Linked DNA regions of Homo sapiens. Each later gene encodes a partner of the first gene's protein in a complex. Each region holds a gene or a part of one and is shown in the gene's direction. Other genes may lie near its edges.

The links. Proteins that work in one complex are often made in the same cells at the same time.
Region 2: the proteins of GPR158 (region 1) and RGS7 are in contact, whole or in part, in a cryo-EM structure (PDB 7SHF), measured with the Homo sapiens proteins. Residues at the interface, in NP_065803.2 of Homo sapiens: Leu507, Lys508, Phe510, Leu511, Arg513, Thr514, Tyr595, Tyr598, Ala599, Thr602, Val603, Pro604, Ile714, Arg715, Leu718, Lys719, Tyr722, Leu725, Glu726, Tyr728, Lys729, Arg730, Met733, Ile734, Thr735, Asn736, Asn737; in NP_001351815.1 of Homo sapiens: Gln35, Ile43, Ser55, Arg109, Phe110, Thr112, Pro113, Tyr114, Phe115, Lys134, Thr136, Lys140, Ala141, Arg142, Leu143, Leu145, Ala146, Asp147, Ala150, Leu153, Gln157, Trp164, Phe168, Met169, Gln170, Glu172, Ala173, Gln174, Lys176, Val177.

The regions. Positions count from the first base shown.
Region 1 is NC_000010.11:25,170,874-25,178,021, forward strand, and holds the start of GPR158 (metabotropic glycine receptor precursor), read left to right. Parts: upstream 1-4,127; 5' UTR 4,128-4,547; coding exon 4,548-5,449; intron 5,450-7,148. UniProt on the Homo sapiens protein: Metabotropic receptor for glycine that controls synapse formation and function in the brain. Acts as an atypical G-protein coupled receptor that recruits and regulates the RGS7-GNB5 complex instead of activating G proteins.
Region 2 is NC_000001.11:241,347,179-241,354,205, reverse strand, and holds part of RGS7 (regulator of G-protein signaling 7), read left to right. Parts: intron 1-7,027. UniProt on the Homo sapiens protein: GTPase activator component of the RGS7-GNB5 complex that regulates G protein-coupled receptor signaling cascades.

The DNA.
Region 1 (7,148 bases):
ATTTTCTAGATTTAGAGAAAGGGCTCAGGGAGGTTGAAAAAAATTGTCAAGAGTCACATGATTAGAAAATGGTAGAACCAGTTAGAGCTGAGTCTCTCAATGGCCAATCCAGTGCCCTTTCACCACATCCTGTAGTCTTAATCCTTGCTTATTTAAATGATTTAAAGCTGTATTTAAATATTTTTTAAAACTCAACCTATACTGCTCACATAAAATATGATTTCAGTAGTTTGTGACCTTTATTTTATTTAAAGATATGTTAATGTCACATCTTCCTCTTTATAATAGTGATAAATCAATCATATAAAGACAACTAATAACCCATATGCCCATTACATACTGCTTTTTCATCAGTGCAAATTTGGTTGTTCTAAAGCAATTAGATTGACTTTTCAGGCTGTGTTGAAAAACTCCTTGGGCTTTTCCACCCATGGTCATAGGTCATGTACCCATAGTTCTATTAAAATACAATAAAGCTCCTACACAGTATATATGTTCATTTAGACAACTTAGCTCTTAATTTTGAGGCATGCATAGGGATATTTATCTCTATCTACAAAGCATGCTTATATAATTGGGGGAGGGAGATAATCATCCCCGCCCCACTTCCTGTCTTATCTTATAAAATGATTTTCCTTTGTGTCGATTGTTTGTTCTATTCTTATTACATATGACCGTTAGCATATTGCATTTATTTTTTTCCACTTGCCTTTCCTGCTAAGGAGAGAATATTTGTATTCTTAGTGCTTCCATTCACTACTCCCTCTACTTAAGGTAAGTTTCTTCCCATCTTACACTTACCTGGTTCACTACTACTTACTACCTAGGCAGTTACTCCTCATTCTTGGGGTTTCAGCTCAATTGTCACCTCCTCATAGTCTTTCTTTCCTTTATCTCTTTATATATGTTCTCTGCTCCTGTACCTTGCACCCTTTATCACTTCACAGTGTTTATTTCTTCGTGGTACTTATCACAACATGCTATTGTCTTATTTATTTGTTTGCATTTTTATCTCTAGCTCTCTCTCTCTACCCACTTGGCTGTAAGAGCCACGTAGACAGAAGATGTGCCTATTTCGTCCCAGTACCAAGCACAATGCCTGATACATAGTAGAGGCTCAATGAACATTGGTTGAATGAATGAATATGTCTTATGCAAGATGGTGTAGAATTTTGTTGTCTGCTTTGAGGAGTGTGTGTGTGTCTGTGAGTGTGTGTGTCAAACCTTGATCCCTTAAAAGAATCTCTTTTGGATTATTCTCTTTACTGATAGACACTAACATAGACATAGGATTATCTACCTACTCAGTTACCTTGATTCCAGACCTATTAAATGGACCAGAACTCCTAGAGCATTTGGAACTTTGTGCCTTATCTTGCATGGACCTAGATTTCTTAGCACTCTGGACCGCAATGGACTGTCTTCTAGAGCTTGTACTCTAGGGTAGCCTCTGGCCACGGGTGGCTAGTCAGCACTTGAAATGTGGCTAGTGTGAAGTGCCTTGTGCTGTGAGTGTAAAATACAAATCAGATTTTGAAGACTTAGTGTAAAAAGTGTAAAATATATCATTAATACTTTTACATTGTTTACTTATTGAAATGATAAAAATTTGGATATATTGGGTTACATAAAATTTACTATTAAAATTAATTTCAGTCTTTTTCTTTTTACTATCTTAATATGCTATTTGAACATTTGAAATTATTTATAAGGATCCTACTTCTGGTTCACATTGTATTTCTATTGGGCAGTGCTGTTCTAGATCCAACTAGCTCATCCCAGCTGTTTGGCAATGTAGGTTGAAGGGGATCCATTGAAGGGAATACTATAATTGCAAGAGTCTCTCATATTCTGCATCTTTCTCATTAGATATGCACTTGGGAAAGGATTGGTGCCCTGGGAGACTAGCTCAGGTGCCTCCCCCGTACAACCTCAATGTGAAATCCCGAGGCCCACACACAGTTTGTGTCCCAAGACACAGAAATTTTAAATGTCTTGCCAGTGGTCATATATCTTCCTTTAAAATAAAGCTAGAACCAGAATCCAGGTCTTTTGATTGTGCTTAGTTCATTTGATTACTTACAGAAGGATCTACGAATACAATTATGTCTTCTTTTAAGTTAGATACTAGAGGATTTTAAAGAATTGTTAATAAGTTATATAGGTTTTCTAAAAGGATCAATGAATGAGGAAATTATACTTCGGACTTTAGATGGTTAAGTAAATGGAATACCATAGTTTATACTTTGATACATTAAATAAGCAGAAACTCTTTCTGTTATTATTGCCACCCATACTGTGGCAGAGCACTAAACCGGGATGACCTTTACTTAGCATAGGAGCATACATTGCAAAGAAAAATTTAAACAAAAAGTCGGAAATGAACATGAAATCTACTTGTAAGTAAATATAAATCTAATAACCACTCTTTGCATAACTATAAAAACTCATTTGGAGACCAACCACTGCGGTTTGAAAAACTGGTTGCTGTGTCTTCTTCCAAAAACCCTCATCACTGGTGTGTCAGGCAGACTTCTCTTCTTGGGTGAGGAGATTGATTTTTAAGTTAGCTTCATCATCATGATCTTCCCATTCATTCACTAATTTAGCAACTATTTAGCCAGAGCCTACTATGTGCCAGGTAGTGTTCTGGGTGCTCAAGGTACCTCAGTGACCAATGCAGACAAAGATTTTTGCTCTTTTGGAGCTTACATTCCAGTCCTTAAGTATTTTCTCAATAGGAAGGATGACATGAAATAGTACAGTGAATCTAAGCAGTGCCTGCTTAGAATGCCATGAGGGACATTTTTGTTAGTTGGGAATTAAAGTAAGTTGGATATTTTCTATTTGTGTCTTTCTTGGGGAATTTGAAAATAGAGGTGCATATGGAAAGTGGAGCTAGCTGTGCAAAACACTACTTTTCTGGTACCAGTCTACTTTTGGAGTGTCAGAAGACACTTAAATTCTCTAATAAGCGTCAAAACATCAATTAGATTGTGTTAAGAAATTTACCAATAATTTGGGGGACTTGGCATACTTGCTCAGTTCTTCTTTCTTCTGCTGGGATATCCCAACCTTTAGCTAAATAGAAGTCTTAGTTCTTATCTCTCAATTCCAGGAACTCCCAGTCAGGATGATTTCCCTTCTCACTCAACACAGGCTCCTTCTCATTCTCCCAGAGCTCATGAGTCCTCCCCCTTGCTCTCTCCCTTACACATCTTTACTTGCATACATTTTTACACGTTCCCCTCCATTCTGGCCCCCAAGCAGAGATTCCTTAAATATGACTTTTTTTTCTCTCCTTAAAGCACAGCTGGTAGATTTCTCCATTACTCCCTCAGCTAAGATGAGCCTAGACAAGTATGTTTTAATCATTTCTTTAACTGACAACAAGAAAGATGATTTGATAATTTGCCTAAAATGAGCAGATGCTCAGGAGGACACGTCTCCATCCTATGTCCCTTCTGTCTAATTTCACCTAGAAATGAAAACTACTCCCTTCTCCCTCTTTTCCAGGCAAAAGGCTGATTTAACTAAGCATGCAAGACGCCAACACCCTCCCCCTCAGTACGTCCAAGTTTCCTTCGCTCTGAGCCACCGAATCTCTGCTTCTCCCCCCTCTGCCGCCCACCCTACGCCACCCACGCAGGTTTCCGAGTCATCCGGAACGCGAGTGGGTGCGAGGACTCGGCAGGCTGCCTCCCGCGCCCCCGCCGCCCGCGGGCCGCCTCGGGTTCAGCACTGGACAGCTCCCTCCCCGGCCCCACAAATGGCAGTCGGCTGATTGACAGAGGAGCCGACCAAACAGGGAACAAGACGACTTGCAGCCGCCCTACAAGGGTTTGGTTGCGGCCAAGCTGCCTCTTTAAACTGGCTTTCCTCCCCCGAGGAGGGAGCAGGGAGAGAGGGTGGAGTGTGGTTTGCGGCCAAACCTAAAGGCTGCAATTAACCAGCCGCCCGGCCTTCGCTACTCCGGACAGACGAACGTCTTAAAGGACGTCTTCGCTCCTCGGGAGTCGCGGCTGCGCTCGCGGTGCGGGTCTGGGCGCGCGCCCCGCGCCTCCGGGCGAAGCGGTCGAGGAGGAGCCAGTGCCGGGAGGCGGGAACGACCTGCGGCGGGTGAGACTATGGAGCAGCGTCTTCGGCGGCCGCGGCGGCAGCAGCAGCAGCAGCTTCTGAACGCGCCTCAATGAGAGCGGCGGTGGCGGCAGCCGGGCCGAGAGACGGACTCGGGCTGACTCCAGCCGCTGGGAGCGCGAGGCCATGTAACCCGCTCGGCTCCAGGCTGCGAGGTGCGTAATCCCCAGCCGGCCCCTCGCGCAGCGGGCACGGCCAGCGCTGCCACAGGTGACTTGATTTCTGCGACGGTAGCTTAGCCACCCGGGGCCAATCTCGAAACATTCTTATTTTCAAGTCCTTTGGACTGGGTGCCATCTGGAGAAGGGGGAAGACTCCTCGAAAAAGTCTGACTGTTGAGAAACTGACGATCCAAATTTAAAAAGTGATTCCCCCCCCTCCCGTTCCCTCCTCTTCTCTCTGGGAGGCAGATGGGAGCCATGGCTTACCCCTTACTCCTCTGCCTCCTGCTTGCTCAGCTGGGATTGGGAGCTGTTGGCGCCAGCCGCGACCCCCAAGGACGGCCGGATTCCCCTCGAGAGAGGACCCCGAAGGGGAAGCCGCACGCCCAGCAGCCGGGTCGAGCCTCTGCCTCGGACTCCTCGGCTCCCTGGAGCCGCTCCACCGATGGCACCATCTTGGCGCAGAAACTCGCCGAGGAGGTGCCCATGGACGTGGCCTCTTACCTCTACACCGGGGACTCCCACCAGCTGAAGCGAGCCAACTGCTCCGGCCGCTACGAGTTGGCGGGCCTGCCGGGGAAGTGGCCAGCCCTGGCCAGCGCGCACCCCTCCTTGCACCGGGCGCTGGACACACTGACACACGCCACCAACTTCCTCAACGTGATGCTGCAGAGCAATAAGTCGCGGGAGCAGAACTTGCAGGACGACCTGGATTGGTACCAGGCGCTGGTGTGGAGCCTTCTGGAGGGCGAGCCCAGCATCTCCCGGGCGGCCATCACCTTCAGCACCGATTCGCTGTCCGCACCGGCCCCACAGGTCTTCCTCCAGGCCACGCGCGAGGAGAGCCGCATCCTGCTCCAAGACCTGTCCTCCTCCGCACCCCACCTGGCCAACGCCACTCTGGAGACCGAGTGGTTCCACGGCCTCCGGCGCAAGTGGAGGCCCCACTTACACCGCCGCGGCCCCAATCAGGGGCCCCGGGGCCTGGGCCACAGCTGGCGGCGCAAGGACGGGCTCGGCGGGGACAAGAGCCACTTCAAGTGGTCTCCGCCTTATCTGGAGTGCGAGAACGGGAGTTACAAGCCCGGGTGGCTGGTTACTCTTTCCTCTGCCATCTACGGGTTGCAGCCTAACCTGGTCCCGGAATTCAGGTAGGGAGGGCCGGGGGGCAGGGGGGAAGGCAAAAGCGAAGCTTTCCTTCCGGTCTTGTGGGTGGGTGCACGTGTGAGGAAGGAACCCTTGGCTGTGACGCGAACGCTTCTCACCCTCAGAGTAGAGACCCGGGCTGAGGGACACCCCACGCGGGCGCGGGTGCTTGGGGGCAAGAAGCGCCCCACGCCCGTCAGCTTCCGGCGCTCGGCGAAAGCCATTCATTCTCTCGGACCAGTTTCCCCGCACTGGGCGAGGGACAGGCAGCCCTTGGCAGGACGGAGACACCCCCGCTGCTCTGTGCTTCCCTCCAATTGTCCGGAGAGCAGGGAGGGGCGTTCCCCACCGGGGGGCGATGCGACAACTTGGCGAGCGCCGGGTGTGTCCGCGGAGTGGCAAGCCTCAGATGAGAGGCGAAAAGGGAGCAGGAGGAACAGAGAGTTCCTTGTTTCTGCCACTTTGGGGTAGCCTCTGCCTGCTTCCTACGTGTGCAGTTGGGGGCACCGGTCTGTTGTTAGTCAGAGCTTATAATTAAAACTGTGCCATCTCCTCGCAGTTCCGGCCCCTCAGCAGTGAGTCAGTCCCAGCAGCTAGCTGTCTCTGGGATCCAGACTTTGCAGCTTGGTCAGGGTGCTCCTTCTACCGGTCTCCCCTCTCCCCGCAATTGATCTTTCCTTCCTCGGTGGCCTTTTCCTCCTCTTCCCTGTCTTAGGCATACTTAAGGGTTCTCCAGCCCTTCACACACTCACATGATTTATAAAAGGACCTAGTTATATTCGGGAGGGAGGCATCAGTTGTGACTGAATTCACTCAAGGAGGCTGGAGGAAACTTAAGGGAGTCTGTACTTCCTGTCTCAAACTATAGCATTTGAGGGAAGCAGAGAATTTGCAAATTAACAGGTTTTAACTTCTGCCTGGGAAGTGCCTGACCTTTGAGGCGGGGAATTTCTAGAAGCAACCTTTAAGAGTAGATGTGAGGAAGGAACTGAAAGAGTAGTTACACCAAAGAGGGCTTAGGAGAGGGCCCAAGATGAACTGAGATCTTCCCTTAGTCCCATGAGGGAAGGCTCTGGAAAGAGGGTCTTGGGGGCTGAGGTTGCTTTTGTACTTTTTGGGAACCTGGGCAGGACTGAGAAACCTTTGTGTGTGGATTATTTATTATTTTTTAAATACCCTGTCACAGCAAGGTCAGGATGCTGACCTGCTGAAAGATGCCAGATCAAGTACTGGGTGGGCAAGTGGGAAAGGTCAGAAGGCTTGTTTGTCTTGGTACTGCCATTTACTGCTGAATGACCTCAACCAAGTTGCTTAACCTCTCTGGGCCTCAGCTACTTATCTGTCCAGTGAGGGAGTTGAACTAGACAGTCTCTAGGGAGCCATCCAGTTATCAAGTTTTGTAGCTTTTAATGTTGGCAACACTTGCAAAGGCATAAAGGATAATAAACCCCTTTGTCTGATTCTGTATGACCATATTAAGTGCATGTGTGTGTGTCTTTGCCTGTGTTTCTATCTCTTTTAAAGGTCTTGTCTTAAACCAGACTAACTCTTTTCTACTTTCAAGATAATCTCATTTCCTCCTAATTCCTGCAGGATCCTATTAGTAAGAGCTGAGCCCAGCTTTGAATCTTTGCCATACTGTTTGCTCAGAAGAGGAAAGACCAGCAGATGCTATTCACTGCCAGCAAACTGTAGCCTTTAAAT
Region 2 (7,027 bases), on another chromosome or scaffold:
ATATTTTGTGTTTGGTAAGACTCTGAGTATTGTAATATGCAAGCTGTGAGAATTTTGAATTCTATCTTATGGGTGTATACAATGTGAAGAGTTAGACTTTTGGTTGGAAAATTATAGTAGTAAGCTATTTCCGTTAGGCTAAACAATTGTATTCCCTCTCTGTTTCCCTTTAAAAGATTAAGGACTGAGTAGATTGGACACCTAATAGTTATCTTCATTAGAAATAAACTAAATATGCAGCAACTAGTGTGTGTCATTCAGTCAGTTATTATGAGAACAAAAAAAGAAAAAATAAGAAGACAGGGCTTTCAGAAATAGTTATTTGACTGTTTAGTGTACCTGAGCCTCATATTGGTAATTTTGGGTTTACTCTACACAGTGTTGTATAGCATCGAATCGCCATTAATTTTACTTTTAAGTTAACAGACTGTAATGATTTCAGGAAGAGAATGTACTACCTCATTTTTTAAAGCATGATTATTTTGTTGATTAAGCTGGGAACTGCTTGTGCTACTCATTTTTCCCTTCTTTTATTAGCTTTTTGCTTATTATTAGTGACCACATATAACTTACTTGTCAAAGAAAGATTTTCTTGATAAGGCATTATTGGAAAAAGTAACTCCTTTCAGTACATTTTACTCTTAATGCTTACCTATGGATTGTCTGTCTATTCTTGTATTCTCTGAGCATATGTTTTTTGTTTTTCTTTGTGATAGAAATAACAATATATAAATAATATCAGATAATGTATAAAGAGACACAGCGTCCTTGCTTATCATTTGCTAGTTATCAGGTCAAATGGTCTTTATCTGTGTGTAGACATAGATCGTGACATCACATATTTCGTGTGTCCATTATGCTTCTATTTTTTCTATCTTATATGGGCTTTCCATTCAATATCTTCTCAGTAGAGGCCAAATTTCAATGTGAAGAACAACACAATAATTGGAGAGGGGTGTTGGTTGAATATGTGTGTTAGGATATTTCAACTGCTCTGCCTTCATAAAGGAATAAACACTAGATTACAATGCTTATTAATTAGGAAGTCAATCGAAGACTTAGAAAAAAAGTTCAGTTCCAATAGGACATTGCTTAGTAACAGTGGAGAGAAAGGATAGAGAAATTGCTGTTCTATTGACTCATGCCCATTTCCCCTTCTACTTCACTATTGAAGCATCGTTCTTGAAAGTGTGTTCTGAACTGGGAATATTCGTGGTGTTTTCCCTCCTCATGACACCTCCTGTTTACTTATTGCATATGACTCTGATGATTTACACACACTCAAGATATGTATGTGCTGTTTCCATTTTATCTTCATAGGCTATTGGTTTCCAAAGTGGAATACACAGAAAAGCTGGGATGTGTAAATTTCTTGTGTGTGTTTGATGTTTCTCTCGTTATCACTATCCTCATACAAATTACAGGAGTTCCTCCAAATCACAGAAAGATTCCAGGGATCTGTTTTCCATGGAGAAGTCCATAGGAATCTTATGGAAAAAATGTACAGCGGATAAAACTCTGATTGTTAAGGTAGAGTGGATATCACCCTATTGAAGGGTACAGGTGATGGTAATGTTGCTTCATGATCCGGATTAGGGTTGGTACTTGCAAGTCAGTCTTGGATGTTGGCCAGTAGGTTTTTGGCATAATACAGGGAATCTCAGTAGAGTTCATTTGATGTCAGAGACACATTTTAAAAATCCTTATAGGCAAATTATTTGCCTTATCAGTTCTTCTGTTTAGAGTGCTGTCTTTTTCATAAGCAGATGATTAAATTACAATGGCTGTGGTGTTTTATGTACTTGAGGGTGTCTTGTTTAAAAACACATAAAATTATGAGGCTTGACTGCTTTTATTCCTGGCACTTTTTAGGCCTCCTTCAGTCAGGCCCCTAACTAGATTAGAACTAGTAGTAATCAACTGCCTTAGGAAGAAGAGACCCAACTAACTCCAAGAGGTGTTGGATTCAGATCAGCTTCTTGAAGAATCTGTAGAGGTGACAAGTCAAAACTCAGTGTTATTTGGTGTTGATGGATCTTAAACACTACCCCCGTTTTTGGTCGGCTTTAGACAAAACTCTCCTTTGTGGGGGCAGCACTGGCCGTAAAGAACAACTGAGTACAGGGAGAGACACTCCAAATTTGGTGTCTGGCCAGCATGCTGTCCACTAGACAGTATACATCACTTTCAGTCCAGCAGCTGACATTCCTGCATTTGAAAAACAAAATTTCTAGGTCACCTTGGGGCCAGAGCTTCAAATTGGCTGGAATGCTGGCTTCTCACTAGCAAGACTCCTCAAAATGCCCAATAATTTCTGATATTATTGCAGCTATCATTTATGCTCAAGCTGTCAGAAAAGAAAATGAAAATGTTTTCCTCATTCATTATCTTACTGCAGTAAACATGGTTTTGGAAATAGCAGACTTACCAAGTTCACTGTTCCTCACCCCTCTCCCCCTTCCCCTCACCTTTCTCCTATGCCCATTCTCTCCTCCATTCTCCTGTGCTGTCCCTTCATCCTTATATAGTCTCTTGCTTTGCATTCGTTTGTTTTTATTTTTTCTTTTCAAACCTGACTTAAAGTTGAGGACATAATTTGCACTGTTTATTTAGTTGTAAAGGAGGAAACAATGCCTTTTGGAGAAGAGAATAGATGCCAGCCTTGTTACTTGTGAAGCTCAGGTACCTGAATAAATCTTTCACATATGGTATCATATGGTGGTACTGGCAAAAGGTTGTTATTTTAGGGTTAAGATTGCTCCATTCTATTTTTTTTTTTTTTAAATAAAGTCAGGGTATTGCTCTGTTGACCAGGCTGGAGTGCAGTGGTGCAATCATAGCTCACTTTAACCTTGAACTCCTAGGCTCAAGCTATCCTCCCACCTCAGCCTCCCAAGTAGCTGGGACTACAGGTGGGTGCCATGATGCCTGTATAATTTTTTTGTTTTTTCTAGAGATGGGGTCTCACTATGTTGCCCAGGGTGGTCTTGAATTCCTAGGCTCAAGCCATCCTTCCGCCTCAGCCTCCCATACTGCTGAGATTACAGGGGTGAGCCACAGTGCCCAGCCGTGACTGCTCCATTCTTGAAGAGCAAGACAAGACCACTGGCTTTTCTTATATGAAGTCACAGTGAGAGCTATCACCCAACCAGGAAGAGTACTTACGCTGATTGGCTTGATCTAAGCATTGTCTTTGAAAGCTACTTCTGAAGTCAGCCTGTTTTATGAGAGGAGACATACTTGCCAGAGAGAGGAGTGGCTTGATTTCTTCTCTGGAAGAGACTGGGCCACAGATATTACTGGTCTCTTAGCATTGAGCTAGCTGACATATTCTACATTAACTCAGTGGGTTTGTCAGTGCAGGACTGCCCATCTGGTCAACGCTGAGGGTGTCGATGTTTCTCGCCGAAATCCCCGTCGTGAAAAATAATCTTTGGCTTTTTTTTTTTTTTTTTTTTTTTTTTGAGATGGGGTCTCATTGTATTGGCCAGACTGGTCTTGAACTCTTGGGCTCAAGTGAACCTCCTGCTTTAGCCTTCTGAGTAGCTGGGAGTATAGGTATGCACCACCGTGCCCAGTTGATCTTTAACATTTTTGAACCTTAGTTTTCTTAATCCGTCTGGGTTTACTACATGTTAGCAGAGTGAGGAATATATACAAGGGACAACAAGACAAAGACGCACTAGAAAAGGAAGGAATGTTTGTAAAAGATCATTATGAAAGGCATGGTCCTTTTAAGCCCTCAGATTTCTAAATTAAGGGCTCAGATGGGAGGCAGGCACTGAGAGAAGGATCTTGCCATTTCTGAAAAATTTTTAAATGGAGTGTCTTTTGTAAATCAGATTATTTGAAAGAAACTTTCTGGACCAAAGGATGTTGTCTACCCTAAACATATTCAGATCTGTTTTTATCTCAGTGATACTAATACTGACATGTACCCTGAGATAAGATAGGACCATCATTGATATTTCCATGATGATATTTCTTGATGAGAAGTAGATAGAAGGATTTTATGAGTAATCATTTAATGATGAATTTTGGATAATAATTGAGTTTAGAGCAGGAGAGTCTTCCAGGGTTGAGCTCTTTCCTTGCCAGTTGTTGTTTGTCAGTGCTACTTGTGGGATTATGAGAAGGATTTGTGGCCTGAATTTTATTTCTTTTATTTCCCACTTCCAATCTCCCTGAATCTAATTGATCAGAGGAAAGTGCAAATGTGCAAAAGAGAAGCCCTCGAGGGATTTTATTACCTTCTAATAGCCTCTGTGGTTCTAGTGAGTGATGGAAAGCAGGGTATTTTTAGGAAGTGTGGGTGACAGAATGTGATCACTGCAGAGAATGTGGAAATACTTTGAATTTGGACAGTTTAGTGACTTTAATGTTAAGTCTCTTTGAAAACAAGATTGTGGAAAACGAGCAACACAAATAATTGGCCCTTGCTTTCCACTTCATGACAGTGATAAGGAGGCATATGGATGTCAGGGTTACTCAGGCTTCTATCCTACAAAATATCAACCCAATTATAAAATAATTGTAGATGATAGAGTGGGTGCCCAGTTCCGTAGGAAACAAAGGCCCACTTCTTTCTGCCATTTGCCCACAGCCATGCAAATTTAACTTGGCTTCTTTTTAATGCCCTTTGTCTTGTGTCTAATTAACAAAAGTCTCAGGACATTGGAACACTAACAGGCAATCATGAACTCAATTCCAGCTCCACTGAAATTGCCACCTGGTCTAGACTAGAAAATATTTTGGCTGAGTGGCCTATCTGGAAAGATACATTGTTGTTTTGTCGTCTGGAAAAATATATAGGAAATGGCAGTTTTGTGAAATTAGCTGGGTTCCTAAAAAGTTTGAGAGTCTTCTTTGGTCCTTTCTGGTGATTGACAAGTAAAAGTTTTCTTAAGGAGACAATGGGTGGAAATGGAGGAAGCATGTGCACTAGAATTGGGAAGTCTTGGTTTTAAATCTCAGCTCTGCCACTGTTTAGTTGTGTGGCTGTGGTTTGGTGACCTAACTTCTTTCACTGCAGTTTTTTAATCTATAAAGTGATAAAAAAATAAAAAATGTTTTAATGTTTTCTTCATAGAGCTGTTTGATGCTAGAATGGGATAGCCTGGGGAAAATGTCTTGCATAGAACCTAGTATATATTAGGTTTCCAATACATGCCTGCTAGTATAATTAATATTATTATCATTTTATCTTATTACTATTCTTCAACAAAAATTATTAAACACCCGATATATGCCAGGTGGGGTACCCTATGTTACCATATTTTTTGATAATGAAAGAAAAGTGAATGTTTCCACTACCTCCAGTCATATTTTTCTGGTAAGATAAAGAGGAGGCTTCTGTAGGATGCATTGGTAATACCATTTTTATGATACTTAAAATGTCCCGTCTTACATTGTTTAGCCCTATCTAGACAGCTTCCTCTACTCATTAATGGGAAAGTCTTTGGCATCTTGTCTTATATATCTTGGCAGTCTGCACAGTTCCTTGGGTATTATGCAAACTATATAAAGCCTTAGAATCCAGGAATTTCAGAGGTGAAAGGAAACTCAGAGTTAATCTACTTTTTCATTTTGCAGATTATGAAATTTAGGATCAGAGAAGTAACACAATTTGCCTGAAGTCACGCAGCTTGAATTCAGGTCTTTATTTATTTGTCTTTCTATGGCCTCTCTTTCTTTCTCTGTCAATAAATCCACTAAGACTTTGTGTTTGTAATTTAGTGTCAGTGAATAATCAGCATCCTGGTTGCTTCATGGGCATCGTGGATTATACCAGGATATCTAGTCAACCCCTCTAAATAGATTAGATGCTTTTTTTTCTCTGACCTGTAGTTTAGCTCTTGGAACCCCAGGAACGATAAGATTGGGAACTTAGTCTGACCTATTCTGGTGGTCGTTCTGTTCATATCTGATCTTAGCTGGAAGTCCTGGATTTGATGCTCTATGGCGATGCTGTCCAATAGAACTTTCTATCATGACCGAAATGTTCTATATGCTCACTGCCTGATATAGTAGCCACTAGCCACGTGAGGTAACTGAACACCTGAAATGTGGTGAGTGTTATTGAGGACCTGGATTTTAAATTGTAATTAATTTTAATTAATTCAAATTTAACTTTAAATGGTCTTGGTGGCTAGTGTCCATTGGATTGGACAGCACAGTGGCAGGAAGTAAAGGACTTTGAACAAATAGCATCAAGTCCAAGACAAGAGATAAAACAATATGCTATACTTAAACAGTTGCATACAGTGCTTAAAACAAAGTAGAGTTCAACAAATTATTTTTTTTTCAAGAGAATACAACAGAACTTTTAAAGGAAGACCATAGACCATGGCCTCGTAAGGGAATGGTAGATATAATGGTAAATGACACTGATTATTTACTTGGTTTATGACTTTTTTTCTCTTTTTTTGAAACTTTCAGTGGTCTGAAGTGAGTGACTCTCCTAACATCAGATGACATAGGTTGTCTTTCAGTAAGACAAAGGCCTGCATGTACCATGAATGTACTGTGCAGGGTGTTTATGGGGCCTCAGATGATTTGCTGATGTTGAAAGTATTTCAATTCATCTCTATTTCATAGCATCTCAGAGATGTATCACAGCCACTCCAATTCCTAACAAGACTGAGCAAAAACCAGAAGCTTCTGGGTAAAAGGGATTTAAAGTGTTTAGAACCCTTTCTGAGAATTTTAAATTGAGGTATAAAAGGTATAAAAGGAATCTATTTTTTATAATCTCTCTTCTCTTGTCTAAGTCTCTGAACTTTTAAAGGAGGGTGATAGCCCATGCAGAGTAGTAGTCATGAAGGGTCAAAGGACCGCGAGTCAGAAGAGCTGGATGTGAATTCTCACCCCACCCCTGAGTAGCTATGCAAGCTTGGGCAAGTGTCTCAACTTCCCTTAGTGTCCTTGCAAAAGCCATCTTTGCAAAACACTTCCTGACCAAGTCTTCCTCTGCTTGCTGTGTGTCCCCAAGGCTGTAGATCATTTAGAAGCCCAGTTGACATGATTT